Linked DNA regions of Homo sapiens. The main gene of each other region encodes a partner of the protein of the gene in region 3 in a complex. Each region holds a gene or a part of one and is shown on either strand. Other genes may lie near its edges.

Region 1 (3,500 bases), on a different chromosome or scaffold from region 3:
ACAATCTAAAGGCAGCCCAAATCTTGTTCTTTTTGAACGAAGTGCATGCAAAAAGTCTTGTAATTTGGACTTTGGCATTTAGAACAACATTTCCCACAGAAATAAGATTATGTCTGGTGGTTATGTTCCCTCGCAAGGCCACAAAGATGATATCCCATGCTGCTATTCAACTATAGCCCTAATAGCACAAGTCCAGGTCCACAGCCCTAAAAACAAGAGACTATTTAGTCCAGAAAGGAGAAGGAAAAATAATTCCCTCCTTTTCAGAACAAAGGTAACTATGGGCAAACTTACAGGGAAGAATATACAGAAAATAGAACTAAGAGTTAAGTAGTCAGGTACAAGATATGTAAAGAAAGAAACTAGCTTTCTCTCATGCCAAAAGTGAAAATATAATAGTAAGTTTTTAAATCCTACTTCCATAGTTAAAAAAAAAATTCAATACCTAGAAATAAACTTAAGAAACATGAAAGACATATAAGAAGAAATCTGTAAAAATTCATTAAAATAAATGTTTTTTAAAGATGTGAAGAAATGGAGAAACATACCATGATTTCTTGAAAAAGATAGCAATGAAAATCAGCCTAGGCCAGGCATGGTGGCTCAAGCCTGTAATCCCAGCACTTTGGGAGACCGAGGCGGGTGGATCACCTGAGGTCAGGAGTTCCAGACCAGCCTGACCAACATGATGAAACCCTGTCTCTACTAAAAATACAAAATTAGCCAGGTGTGGTGGCACATGCCTGTAATCCTAGCTACTCAGGAGGCTAAGGCAGGAGAATCGCTTGAACCTGGGAGGCAGAGGTTGCAGTGAGCCGAGATCACGCCATTACACTCCAGCCTGGGCAACAAGAGTGAAACTCCTTCTCAAAAAAAAAAAAAAAAAAAATTCAGCCTGGTAGAAAATGTTTGCAACACAAACCATACAGTAGTCCCAGGGGGATACATTTTAAGTATGGTGGATGGCTGAAACCACGGATAGTACCGAACCTGACTGCCATCAAATGCAACACATTTCTGTTCATGTCTTCCACCCATAAATGTAATGCCTTTTCCATCTTAACTAAGCACTTGTGAACTGTGGCTATAACTTTTACAGTATGAGGTACAACAGCAAAACTAGCATGAATTTCTTTTTCCTTCTCCACAATTTCACAATAGAAGATTCATTCTTACTATCGATCTTAGCAACTTCAATATATGATTTGAAAAGTTTTTTTTTGTTTTAATTTCTTTAAGTTGAGAACTTTCAACTTTTCGTTTAAAGGAAGCACTTTACAGCTTCTCTTTAGCATTCCTAATTGCCAAAATCACTACTATTGCATTTTGGGGCCACTACTAAATAAAATAAAGGTTACTTGAATCCAAGCACTGCAAACTGCAACAGTTTTCTGAAAATCAGGATGGCTACTAAGTGATGGACAGGCAGGTAGCGCATACAGCACAGATACACCAGACAAAGGAAGGATTCACGTTCCTGGTGGGACAGCAGAAGTTTATACCAAGTGACTCAGGATAGTGACCAATTTAAATTTTATGAGTTGTTTTTTTCTGGAGTTTTCCATTTAATATTTTCAGATGCAGAAAGTGAAACCACAGATAAGGGGAGACTACTGCATATTAATATATCAATAAGAAATAATTCAACAGAGAAACTGATAAATGGTCAGGTGCCAGTGGCTCACACTTGTAATCCCAGCACTTTGGGAGGCCAAGGCGATGGATCGCTTGAGCCCAGGAATTTGAGACCAGCCTGGGCAACATGGCGAAACTCTGTCTCTACTAAAAATACAAAAATTAGCTGGGCACAGTGGTGCATGCCTGTAGTCCCAGCTACTCGGAAAGCTGAGGTGGGAGGATCGCTTGAGCCTGGGAGGCAGAGATTGCAGTAAGCCAAGATTCCACCACTGCACTACAGCCTGGATGACAGAGCAAGACTCTGTCTCAAAAATAAAAAAAGAACAGAAAAATGAACAATTTTCAGAAGAAATAAATGTCCAAGGGCCGGGCACAGTGGGTCACGCCTGTAATCCCAGCACTTTGGGAAGCCAAGGCAGGAGAACTGCTTAAGCTCAGGGCAACATGGCAAAACCCCATTTCTACAAAAAATACAAAAATTAGCCAGGCACGACAGCATGCACCTGTAATCTCAGCTATTTCGGAATTTGAGGTGGGATGATCACTTGAGCCCAGGAGGTCGAGGCTGAAGTGAGCTATGATCATACCACTGCAGTCCAGCCTTGGCAACAGAGACCCTGTCTTGAAAAAAAAAAAAAAAGAATTACATGTCCAATAAATACATGAAGATATGCTTACCCTAATAACCAAAGCATCAAATTCTAAAAGAAATATGAATTTTCTCTCCTTAATTAGTAAAATTAAAAAGATCAATAATATCTAGAGTCAAAAAAGAAGGTACAGGAAAAATGGGTATTTTCAGCCACTGCTGGTACAGGTATAAACTAGCATAGCCTATTTAGGTCAATTTGACATTATTTAATCAAAATCTCATCAACCACTAATGCCACTTATAGAAATCAATCCTACAGAAATACTAGCAGAAACGCACAAAGACATACATATGAATGTGTTTACTGTAATTTCGTAATTTAAAAAAAAAACTGGAAACAACCTAATGTCCTGCAATGGTAGAATGGTTAAATTATTATCTATTCATACAAAGGAATACTTCACAGCCATGAAAAAGAATGAGATAATGACATAGAAAGATATCTAATATATTGTTAAATGGGAGGGGAAAAAAGAGAAGGGGCAAGTTTCACAATAAGACCACATATTTCTATATATAGACTTGGCAGATGAGCTACTTGGAGAGATGTTCCCACTATAATTTAACTAGATACTTATTAAATTTTTAATGCACTGTTGGGCTTTCAATAAGCAAGGCAAAATCTCCAATGAGAAAAAAAATCTCCAAAGGGGGGTAAAAAAAAAAAAAAGATTTGAGCCCTAAGCATAAGCTCAAATACTAAAGAATACTAGACACACACAAGGAAATGGAAACAAGCCACTGAGCATGAGAGGCAGCAGAAACAAGTCTTATAGGCTGGGCATGGTGGCTCACGCCTGTAATCCCAGCACTTTGGGAGGGCAAGGGGGGGGGCAGGTCACTTGAGGTCGGTCAGGAGTTCAAGACCAGCCTGGTCAACATGGTGAAACCGTCTCTACTAAAAATGCAAAAATTAGCCAGGTGTGGTAGCGCATGCCTGTAATCCAGCTACTCGGGAGGCTGAGGCAGGAGAATCACTTGAACCCAGAAGTGGAGGTTGCAGTGAACAGAGATGGAGCCACTGCATTGTAGCCTGAACGACAAAGAGAGACTCCGTCTCAAAAAAAAAAAAGAAACAAGAGGCCGGGCGAAGTGGCTCACGCCTGCAATCCTAGCACTTTGGGAGGCTGAGGTGGGTGGATCACAAGGTCAGGAGTTCAAGACCAGCCTGGCCAAGATGGTGAAACCCTGTCTGTACTAAAAATACAAA
Region 2 (3,500 bases), on a different chromosome or scaffold from region 3:
TCAGGAGACAAGAATACTACATGCACTGCAAGGCTTAGTCAGTTACACAGAAAGATGCTCAACATGTGTATCATCTGATGCAGCAATTACACTCAAAAGAATAATGTCATCCTTAATATATAATCTTGCTTTCTTATAGCAAGAATGGCAATTCCTACTTAGAACATTAAAACATTCTTATTATTTCTCCAGTAAAAGAAACTTTTGAGTTAAAAAATAGAAATATATAGATTTTAATTGCATAAATATTTAATGTTTTTAGGTCTAATAGAAAGAAGCAGCACCGAGGACTACCCTAATATTAGTGTAGGCATCTGTACATGATAGTAGCCAATCAATTTAATGTAGTTTATGTGGTTTTGGGGATTGTAGATATTCCTCTTTTATCAGTTAATGTTTAGTAATCATCTACTGTAATATCCACATTATAGGCCAACAAAAGGAGAAGGAATCATTGGGGTATAATAATTAAGGCTCAGATATGGCCCACATATACATTAACCAAGGAGAAGTACCAGCTGAAGAGCTCAGAGCAGAACTCTGGTTGGATTCCATAATGTATAAGCACGAAAAAAAAACACCCATAAATAAGTTATAAAATACATGTGTTATAGAAAATAAAGAGCATGATTTCAGAATATCACCTAGCATATAAAACACAGGCCCATATACATAATATTGATACCCTCACAAATATATATATAACACAAGCCCATATGTGTGTGTTTATGTGTGCATGCGCTTACACGTCAGGAGAAACTGCACATGGGAACAAATGTGGGAAAGTGCACAATGAGCAACAAACGTGGGCACCTTTGGAAAACAGTGCAGTAAAGTCATCACTGATGCAGTACACAGAAGCATAACAAGCTGAGCAGATCAATATGACTGGGATATAAGACATGTTTCTATCTCCAATTCCATTTACATTCAAAAAAGGCAAAAGAACAAACTATATAGCTTTATTTTTGTATATAATCAGTACAGTTTTTTCTGTATCCAGTCTTTCCTCAACTCCAAACAGGCTTTTTGTCCCTCCTTCCCAACACCAAAATGCTCTTTCCTGACATTAGTATTTGTCCTCGATGATCACTCCTCTCCTCCTGAAACACTTTGTTTCACTTCTTTCAGTTCTCCTCCCTTCCCAACTGGCTGCTCCTTGTTAGCCTAGACTTTTTCATTCAAAATTAACTCAATCAATATTTATCAGGCACTTGTATAATGTTTAGAGGCTGGCTAGATGATTAGAACAGGTACTGGTAACTAATAATCTACCTAACCTCTAAACATACCAAGCTCAGTTCTGACTTCTCCTCTCTAGCTATACCCTTCCCTAGGTGACTTCATCCTGTCTTATGGCTTTAAAAAGTTTATCTGAGCTGATAACTTCCAAATCTACTATCTCCAGCTTGGACTAATTCCCGAACTGTATCAGGAGTACTGCATCACTCCAGAGGGGAGAGCAGTCAGCAGTACTGCATCACTCCAGAGGGGAAAGCGGTCAGCAGTACTACATCACTCCAAAGGGGAGGGCAGGTAGCAGTAATGCATCACTCCAGAGGGGAAAGCATTCAGCAGTACTGCATCACTCCAGAGAGGAGGGCAGGTAGCAGTACTGCATCACTCCAGAAGGGAAAGCAGTCAGCAGTACTGCATCACTCCAGATGGCAGATAACAGCAGTAGAGGTGGTGAAAAATAACGAATATGGTTTAAAAATTAAGCACTGTGGTTCCTTGACGAATGCATATAAAATAACAACCAATCTTCCTCCCTCAGCATTTCCTGTAAGCTTTTCTGTTTTATTTTATATATCACCATCTGAAGGATTTACAGTATTTACAACTTATATTTTCTCCCTTTTCAGCCCTCCTTTTTTACCCCTCCAAACACACACACACTGTACAGAATTTAAAAAGCAGGCCTAGTACTACAATCCTTAGAAATGCCTGCTTGCAAGGCTGGCCCCTGGCTGGCATTTGAAAATTTGGATCTAAGAAATCTTCTGTCACTGTGCCTATAATTTACAAATAATGTGGTTTACACTGAACACCTACTATCCTTTTAGGAGTCTGGACTTTGGTATGTGCTAAGCAAAAGCTGCGTACATGACTAGCCACTCCCAGTAAAAACCTTGGGCGCGGGATCTTTAATGGGCTTCCCTGGGCAGAAGCACTGCACACGTTGCTGCACTGTCCTTGCTGGGGGAAACAATGTGCTGTGTGACCACTCATGGAAGGGACAGAGCATAGTGACACCTGCACATGGATTCCTCTATTCTCTGTGTGTGTCTTTTCCCTTTATAATCTAGCTGTGTGTCTTTATTACCTTAGCCAAGCATATTAACTATACACCAAGTCCCCTGAGTTCTTCTAGTGAGTGTCTGAATGTGAGAGGCCATCTTGAGGACCCTTGATATGCACACCTAAAATGTAAGGGCCTCAGTTTATTACTCTGTCCCTAGTGCTTACATCATTATCTAGTACACAGCTGGTTATTGCAACTATCTATTGAAAATAAGTTTATTTTCTTTCATTTGGCTTCTTCCATTATTCCTAATTGAACAGAGAAGAGTATCAGTGAATGGACGGTGGACTTTTAGAAGCTTTTTACAATGCACCTTGCTATCCAACTTATAATCTGCATGCCTGTGTGTATACACATACACATATACACACACACACACACACACACACACACACACACACACACACTCCATTACTCCGTTACTGTATAGTACCTTCTTTTAACTTTGAAGTTGGCCTGAGGCTGGGATGGGCCAGTGAGATTAAGGAGAGGGTTTCCGCTCAGAATGTTTTCCATACGAATCCTCTCTTCTTCAGCTTTTTGTTCTTGTTCCTGTCAATGATAAAGGAAGATTAACACTTACTTATTTTAACTCTGGGTTCAATTTTTTTTATATTAGCTCACTGAAAAAAAAAACAAAACTGATCATTAGGATTTTATGGCAACAAAAGCATCAAGGCAGGCTTTTTTTTTTTTTTTTTGGTTTTTGAGGCATACTAGAAAAGTCTCCCTCATCAAAATAAAATAATTTAGCATTTTTATTATAAATATTTCATGGTTGATATCATACAGTAATTAGTCTCTTCCAACTGTGAAATGCTACAGATCCATATTTAAATCTATTTTCTTTCTTGAAGTACATGTCAAATTAATTGCTTTAAATTTTAAGCATATATCAATAAGCATATTCTAATAATTTAAGAACATATTGAATATCAAAAAGACACATTTAGCAAAACTATTACCTTCATTTTAAAGGGTCATACCTAACTGTGATTAATTTTAATCTTATTTTGAATTACTAATAATGTAAACTTGTGTCTCTAGGTTTGGTGACAAGTTATGAATGAAGAAGTAACTCCTAAAATAGGACAAACTACCATATACAAAATTATATCCAGTTAACATGAATTTCTACTAATTTACCTGAGGTTGATCTATTTTGTTTTTATTGTCTTACTGAGTTTTTCTTTTT
Region 3 (3,500 bases):
AGAACTACCTGGGGAGCTTTTAACAAAAATGGCAGGCCTGGGCTCCACTCTCACAGATTGATTTAATTGGCTGAAACCACTGCTTTAATATTTTGTATCTACAGTGATATAAAATGTCTGTTCATTGTTTAAAGCAAGTATTAACAGTTTAAAGCAAATAAAATGTTAGCCAAATTCAGTTATTTCAACAGAGAACTGTAGAAAAACACATCAAAACACTAAAAAGTGAAAAAAAATTACAGTACTATTGTTCCCACAAATAATTCTCCATTTAATCCTATAACCAAATCGTGTCTTAGAATAGTTTTTTAAAAATAACCTTACCTCTTTAAGTTTATGCCGAATTAAATTCGCCGTTGTATTCAATGAGTCATCGTGCATATCCACTTTAGAGATGTCTGGTAACAGAGGTCCAATCATAATCTCATTACCAGTTGGGTTTGTTTGAAGAAAAGTTCCAAGTTTACGATCATCTTCTCTTCTTCTTTTGCGCTCCTGCAGTTGTGTTGTCCTAGGCATAAATCTGTCAACTGCCTCTGAAGACGTAATAGCCTTTTGTGCACCAGGGCAGGCCACTGAGTTTTTCAAAGAGTTTATCTGTGTTTTCCGCAAAGAGTCATTGTGGTTATAATGCCCCATTGTTTTATGATGGTTTCTACCATCCTTAGAGGAGTCTGGTGCTCTGTCTACAGGTCCCCCGGATGAACACATACATTTTGAGGAGAAATAACATAAAGGCAATTCACAGGAATACGGAAGATAAGGATTTGAGTTCCCTGCAGAAGTGTTCAAAGCAGCTTTACAAAATCCAGACATCTCTGAGTGGAAGTCTTGTCTAAAATCCTCTGTGTCTTTATGCTCTGTAACCAATTTCTTCTTTGTCACGTAATGGTCTTTATATTACAATTTAAAAGTTGAGGGAAAGGGAAACAGAAGTGGTTTATTGTTTTCATCATTCAGAATCATATAATTTAAAAAAATCACTTAAAAATGTTAACAAATTCTACTCCAAAAAAATCATTTCTTGAGAAGGGTATATATTCACATGGTTTAAAACCTAAAACGGATAAAAAGATATATAGCATCAAGTGTCACCCTTTCCTTGCTCTCCATGGGTCTGGTTTCATCCCCATAAGTAATCACTATTGTTTTTTATTTATCTGTTCAATATGTCTCACTTTGCCACCTCCTTCCTCCCATTTTCTCCCCACTTTAAGATAACCTGTAATACGCATTTCTCTGCACCTCTGCATTTTCCATTTCACTGTAGATCTTACAGAGGTTTTTCATCATTATATAGAAAGGTTTTTTTTTTTTTTTTTTTTTTACAATTTCAGAGTATTCCACTATCTGGATGTATCATGCTCCTTGGCTTGTGTTTGTTAGTCACTAAAGAAAGCAATATGCTTGTCGCACTTCTAGGGCTGGCAAGGGCCTCTTCCCTGGTTTACTCTCCCAAAAGCAGATTACAACAGGAATGGAGTATGGAAGATGTGGTAAAGATGAAATTGGCTATGTGTTGATGATTGTTAATGTTAATATTAATACATGGGAGTTATGTTAACTTAGTCTCTCTGCCTGTGTGTTTTGAAATTTCCATAATAAGAGTTTTTGAAAAGTAAGACCACGTATACAAATGCATCTTGTAGAGGCTAGAATGCTGCAGATGAAAGAGAGCTTAACTAAAGTGTCCAAGGCCAAACAAGTCATAGTTTAATTCTGAGGTCAGCAGCACAGCAAAAAGGTCTTAAGAGGAAGGGGAGCAAATAATGAAGATAATCCTAGGCTGTCACCAACACTGAGATGATTAAAGCAGTTAAAAAGTAAACTCTGGACAGAGTCCAAAGCTTGGGTTTTAACCCTTATTTTGTCTTTAATTCATCTCTAATAATATAGGCAGGTCACAAACTTTCTGAGACTTAGTTTCCTCACCCAGAAAAATTAGGACCCAGGTCAGATAATGTCAAAGGTCTTTCTCCACATTAATATTTTATAATTTCCTTTGCCACACAAACATACAAGTTTTCCTGGTGCTATTTATTTACTTATCTTACAAGTTAGAGTTCAATGTCTGCAGATGACTGGGGATTCTCAACAGCTCTCTTACCAGATTTCTGAGTAAGTTTTCCAAGAGTTTTCCCACTTTATTTCTCTCCATCACTATGTGGTAGAACAGGCATGTGGGGGCATTTAGCCAATTGCTGGTCAAAAGTAGAACTTCTCCATGATTAGCAGTGACAACTATATGATTTGACAACTGCAAATCATAACTGCTTCTCACTGCATTCTGGTCAAAGCCTTAATTCCTTAGCATGGGACACAAGGCCCTCCATGATTCACTTCTTACCCACTTTTCTAAACTTATCTCTCACTGAAACCTTTGGGCTTTGGTTATACTGTATTAATTAAAGTTCCTTAAATGCATGATGCTCATTTATTCCTCTAAACATTTAAACATCTTGCCTGGCTTGCCTTTCCATCTTTTCCTCTCCCATTTAGTTAACGTCTACTTATCCTTTAAAATTCAGCCACTTCTCACATACTATAGGAAGTCTTCTATGAACCAATATTTCTCCCTTCTCAACCCAGATTATGTAGTGTGCTGCAGAGAACCCTGTGGTTCACAGTTACTGAATACTGTGATGGTTTACTTGCCTCTCCTACCACTAGACTGGGAATTGCATGATGACACACCTGGCAGAGTGCCTGACACACAGGAGGCATTTAGCAATATGCTTTCCATACCTTTATTTTCAGTAGTTTTTACTACATATGCCTTCCGCATTTGTAGTTTTTTTCTAGTTTCTTCAACTGTTTCAAATTCTGGAGCATAGCACACATGAAGCAATCCACCGAAGAAACTCTGTTCATCCATTTTTCTCTTGGCTGTCCTGAATGGAAATACAAGATAGCATAGTTTTTTAATCTAGATTTACTTGGGATGAAAGCTTAACTAGTATGCAATATCTGGATCTAAAGAGCAAAGTCCAGCTTTTGCTACGTGTATATATATCCTGTGGATTGGGAATTAAGATGCTCTGCTTGTGGACAGTATTCATCCCATTGATCGAGTATGTACTCGTAGAGCCTCCCCTTTCCTTCCCTTTGAGCCTCTTTGTTCCCTAGTCTTTAAACAACTAAGGACCCAGCTGGTTGGCCTGAAGTATGTAAACTGTGGTCATAAAATGGAGCTTTTCTCTGTGGCCCTGAAGAGTTGGTTCATACCCAATTAAGCTTTTTCAGCACTATGTATTTCTGTGATGGGATTCATGCCTTAAAAATCAGATGAAAGATACTATAATCATAAAACATTCAATAACTGAGGAACTATTAAATATATAACAATGAGAAAATGAGAAGAATGTTATTCAGTCAATAAATACTTACTAAACATCTATGACTGGCCAGGTACTACAATAAATTTAACTACTTCTATATCCAGGGATAATGATAAATACTTGTTGAGATTTCACCATATGCCAGGCAATGTCATAAGCGCT
Region 4 (3,500 bases), on a different chromosome or scaffold from region 3:
AATAAATAAATGAGGGAAGAGGGACAATACTTTCTTATAGAAGAAATTCAATTACTAGATGTAGAAGAAAACAGACAAATAAAAAATCACCATTAGGTGATTTTTTAACCATCCAAAGATGGATGTTAAAATTAGTGAGTAAAAGCTGGAGGAAAAAGAGATTTGCATAGTATCAAGTTACCTCCCTACAAGACATTTTCACAGAGAAAAATAGTTTCCCTGAAGACATCCAGTGGACACCACCTTACTCAAGTGATCAAGGTTGTCACCCAAAATAAAATTATGAACCTCTTGATAAGATGCACTAAGAACAACACATTGTTTCTAATGTACTCTTGCCAAAAATGTCTAATCTCATTCTAATAAGGAGAAAACATCAGACGAAACTCCATACTGAGGGACAGGTTACAAAATAAGTGACCAGAGGACTTCAAAAGTGTTAAAGCTATTAAGAACAAGGAAAGCCCGAGAGGAACTATCATAGAATGCAGAAAACTGAGAATACAATTAAATGCTAGCAGAATCCTGAAATAAGAAAAACGACATTAGTGGTAAAACTGGTTTTCAAATCACATCTGTAGTCTAGTCAATAATGCTGTTCCAATGCTAATTTCCTAGTTTGATAAATGAACCAGTGTTATGTAAGATGCTACCATTAGGGGAAGTTGGAATGAAGAGTATATGGAAATTCTCTGTACTGTTTTTGCAACTTTCCTAAATCTAAAATTAGCTCAGAATAAAAGGTTACAGTTACAAAGTAAAAAATATAAAGGCATCAGAGAGCTAGTGGAAAAACAAGTACTAGAGGGGCCAAGATGCAGGAGAAAGCAGAAACATTGAGAAGTAAGTGATGTTCTACAGCTACTTTCTCCCTGGGAGCATCTGCTGATTCAGGGATGCTACTGAGGGACAGAGACACCAGAGGTCTGGTAGCCTTGCAGGGCTAGAGAGACAAGAATGGGACTGGTTATTTGCAATACATATATGTACAAAAGATATCATATCTAGAATATGTAAAGAAAACCTACAAATCAACAGAGAAAACAACTTAACTAAAAAAAATTGGTAAAATACTTGAACAGCCACTTGACAACAAAAATCCAAATGGCCAATAATGGATAAAATGGCATTTAACTTCTCTAGTTGAAATGCAAATTAAAACTAAAACCGCCATGCAGTACCATTACACATCCACCAGAATGGCTGAAATGAAAAAGACGGTCAATTTGAAGTATTAATGAGAATGGGAGCTAATGAAACTCTTATACATGGCCGGTGGGAGTGTAAATAGGAATAACCACTTGGAAAACTGACAGTATTCACCAAAGCTAAATATATGCACATCTTATGACACACTGACTCCACCTATAGGTACATACCCAGTAGAAATGTGAATAAATAAATAAGGTCATCAAAAGATATGTACAAGAATATACATGGAAATATCACTTGAAAATCTAAAGTCTGTTGAGCAAAAATGATAAATATATATTGTGGTATATTCATATAGTAGGAAACTACATAGCAATATTACTGAATTAACTATAACTAAATGCAGTAATGCATCTAAATCTCACAAACATAATGGTAAAAAAATAAGCCAGACATAAAAAGGAGTCCATAATACATAATGCTAAAGGTAAAAACAGGCACAATTAATTTATGAAATTACAAATCAGAATAGTAGCTGCCATGAGGATGGAAGGAGTAGTAACTGGGAGAGGAAACACAGAGAACTTCTGGGGTACCGGTATATCTTGATTTGTGTGCTAGCTATGAGGATGTGTTCCCTTTATAAAAATTCATATAGCATCTGAGATCCACAATGAATGTATGATATATCTCAATTACAAACAGCTTTAATATTAAAAGTAAAAAACTAAAATTTATTTAAAATAAAAACATCAGGATAGCTCCTATAAACTAGATTACAAACATTATGAATGGATGGTTCATATCAGTCATCACTCAGATAAGTATCTGCGAATGAAATATTTTCATTTCTATGATGAGGATGTCAAAAGGTAATCCCAGCATTATAAATGTTGTATTACAGACTGCAAGAATGATAGATGGGACCATTTGTATTAATTGTGGCTTTTAAACAACTGATCTCTAAGACAAATAAACAATCAAATTATTTTCTTCCTTCATATATATCAGCAACATATTTATTAGAAAAGAGCAAGCCAAATTACACATAAGCTTCAATACCTGAGGCAGAGCTATGACTACTGATGGATGAAGAGTCGCTCTCTTCACTGGAAGACTCTGAACTGCTATCACTGCTGTCAGAATCAGAGTCGGATGAGTCAGACTCTGAAGAGGAGGACGCTGAAGAGGAAGAGGATGGGGAGGATTTATTTTGCTCAACATCTGGTTTCTGCGCCACAATGACCTTTGGTGTATTTTTGAGATGCTCCCGCAGTTCATCCCTAATTTAAAATATAATCTGTTAGATTCTATTTCAAAGACAATTATGAGATAATTTTATAATCTGAACATAAATTCTGAGAATAATCCTTACGTTAAACCTCCAAGACCTATAGAAGTAAAGAAGTTGATGGCAAACCGAGTGTTTCTTGGATTATCTCGGGGTAATAATCCTTCAAAGAATGGCTGCAGAGTTCTAAAAAGGAAAAAAATAAACAAAAGAGAACACATTGCTTAAAGATAAAAAGGTAAAATCCTTAGTCATTTTTCAGATTTTTCATATATTAAATTACTAAATGAAATACAACCAAGTAACTAGTTGATGTCATTTATTAGGTTAGGCTACGTGCTATCTAAATGAAATGAGTAGGGTCAAGTAATAATGTACCAAACTTGATTTCTATCATTATACAATGTAGGAGGTTTTTAAAAAACTTTTTTTACACACACACATATAGAAAGATAAATATATACACATATATACACGTGTGAATATATATAGTGTATATATATACACACACGTATATATAGTGAATATATGTACAAAAAATTTTAAAAACCTTCTCTGTTGTGTATGTACACGTACACACACATACATAGAACTGTGCCAAGTACTGGGGGAGAGGTGGAAGTCATCAACAAAAGGGAGAAATCAAGGATGAAGACCATATAATTACAATATATATGGAGTGAGACAACCAGAAAGACACTAACAATACAAGGTGGTTTTGGACATTTGGTTTTCAGCACCACACTGAGTAACTACTCAGTGGAGTCAGAAAAAACTTTCTCACAGAAAAAGGTACAATATAAGAAGAATGATTAAGAGTTTCCCAGATAGATCAATAAGACAGGAGAATGCCAGCAGTGGAAACTGAGGTAAGGAAGCATGAAAGAGCCAGATATGTTTAACAAGCTTGGCAGTGTTGGTATGGCTGGAGTGCAGCTTGCTGAAGAGAGAGAAGACGAGCCTGGTCAAGTAGACAGGGACCAAATAAGTAAGTATATGAAGCCAAGAGAAGTGGATGGAATAGTCCAGAGACAGTGTGTGGAACCCAGGAACACTG

What was found. Proteins that work in one complex are often made in the same cells at the same time.
Region 1: RBM48 (region 3) and SNIP1 share a complex: the UniProt entries of both Homo sapiens proteins name them as parts of the minor spliceosome.
Region 2: RBM48 (region 3) and CWC15 share a complex: the UniProt entries of both Homo sapiens proteins name them as parts of the minor spliceosome.
Region 4: RBM48 (region 3) and CWC22 share a complex: the UniProt entries of both Homo sapiens proteins name them as parts of the minor spliceosome.

Annotation. Positions count from the first base shown.
Region 1 is NC_000001.11:37,540,794-37,544,293, forward strand, and holds part of SNIP1 (smad nuclear-interacting protein 1), read right to left. Parts: intron 1-3,500. UniProt on the Homo sapiens protein: Required for pre-mRNA splicing as component of the spliceosome. As a component of the minor spliceosome, involved in the splicing of U12-type introns in pre-mRNAs. Down-regulates NF-kappa-B signaling by competing with RELA for CREBBP/EP300 binding.
Region 2 is NC_000011.10:94,963,557-94,967,056, forward strand, and holds part of CWC15 (spliceosome-associated protein CWC15 homolog), read right to left. Parts: intron 2,858-3,500; coding exon 2,739-2,857; intron 1-2,738. UniProt on the Homo sapiens protein: Involved in pre-mRNA splicing as component of the spliceosome. Component of the PRP19-CDC5L complex that forms an integral part of the spliceosome and is required for activating pre-mRNA splicing.
Region 3 is NC_000007.14:92,531,795-92,535,294, reverse strand, and holds part of RBM48 (RNA-binding protein 48), read right to left. Parts: intron 2,892-3,500; coding exon 2,746-2,891; intron 1,058-2,745; exon of another isoform or gene 894-1,057; coding exon 325-893; coding exon of another isoform or gene 211-324; exon of another isoform or gene 1-210. UniProt on the Homo sapiens protein: As a component of the minor spliceosome, involved in the splicing of U12-type introns in pre-mRNAs.
Region 4 is NC_000002.12:179,948,298-179,951,797, forward strand, and holds part of CWC22 (pre-mRNA-splicing factor CWC22 homolog), read right to left. Parts: intron 2,630-3,500; coding exon 2,528-2,629; intron 2,436-2,527; coding exon 2,215-2,435; intron 1-2,214. UniProt on the Homo sapiens protein: Required for pre-mRNA splicing as component of the spliceosome. As a component of the minor spliceosome, involved in the splicing of U12-type introns in pre-mRNAs. Promotes exon-junction complex (EJC) assembly.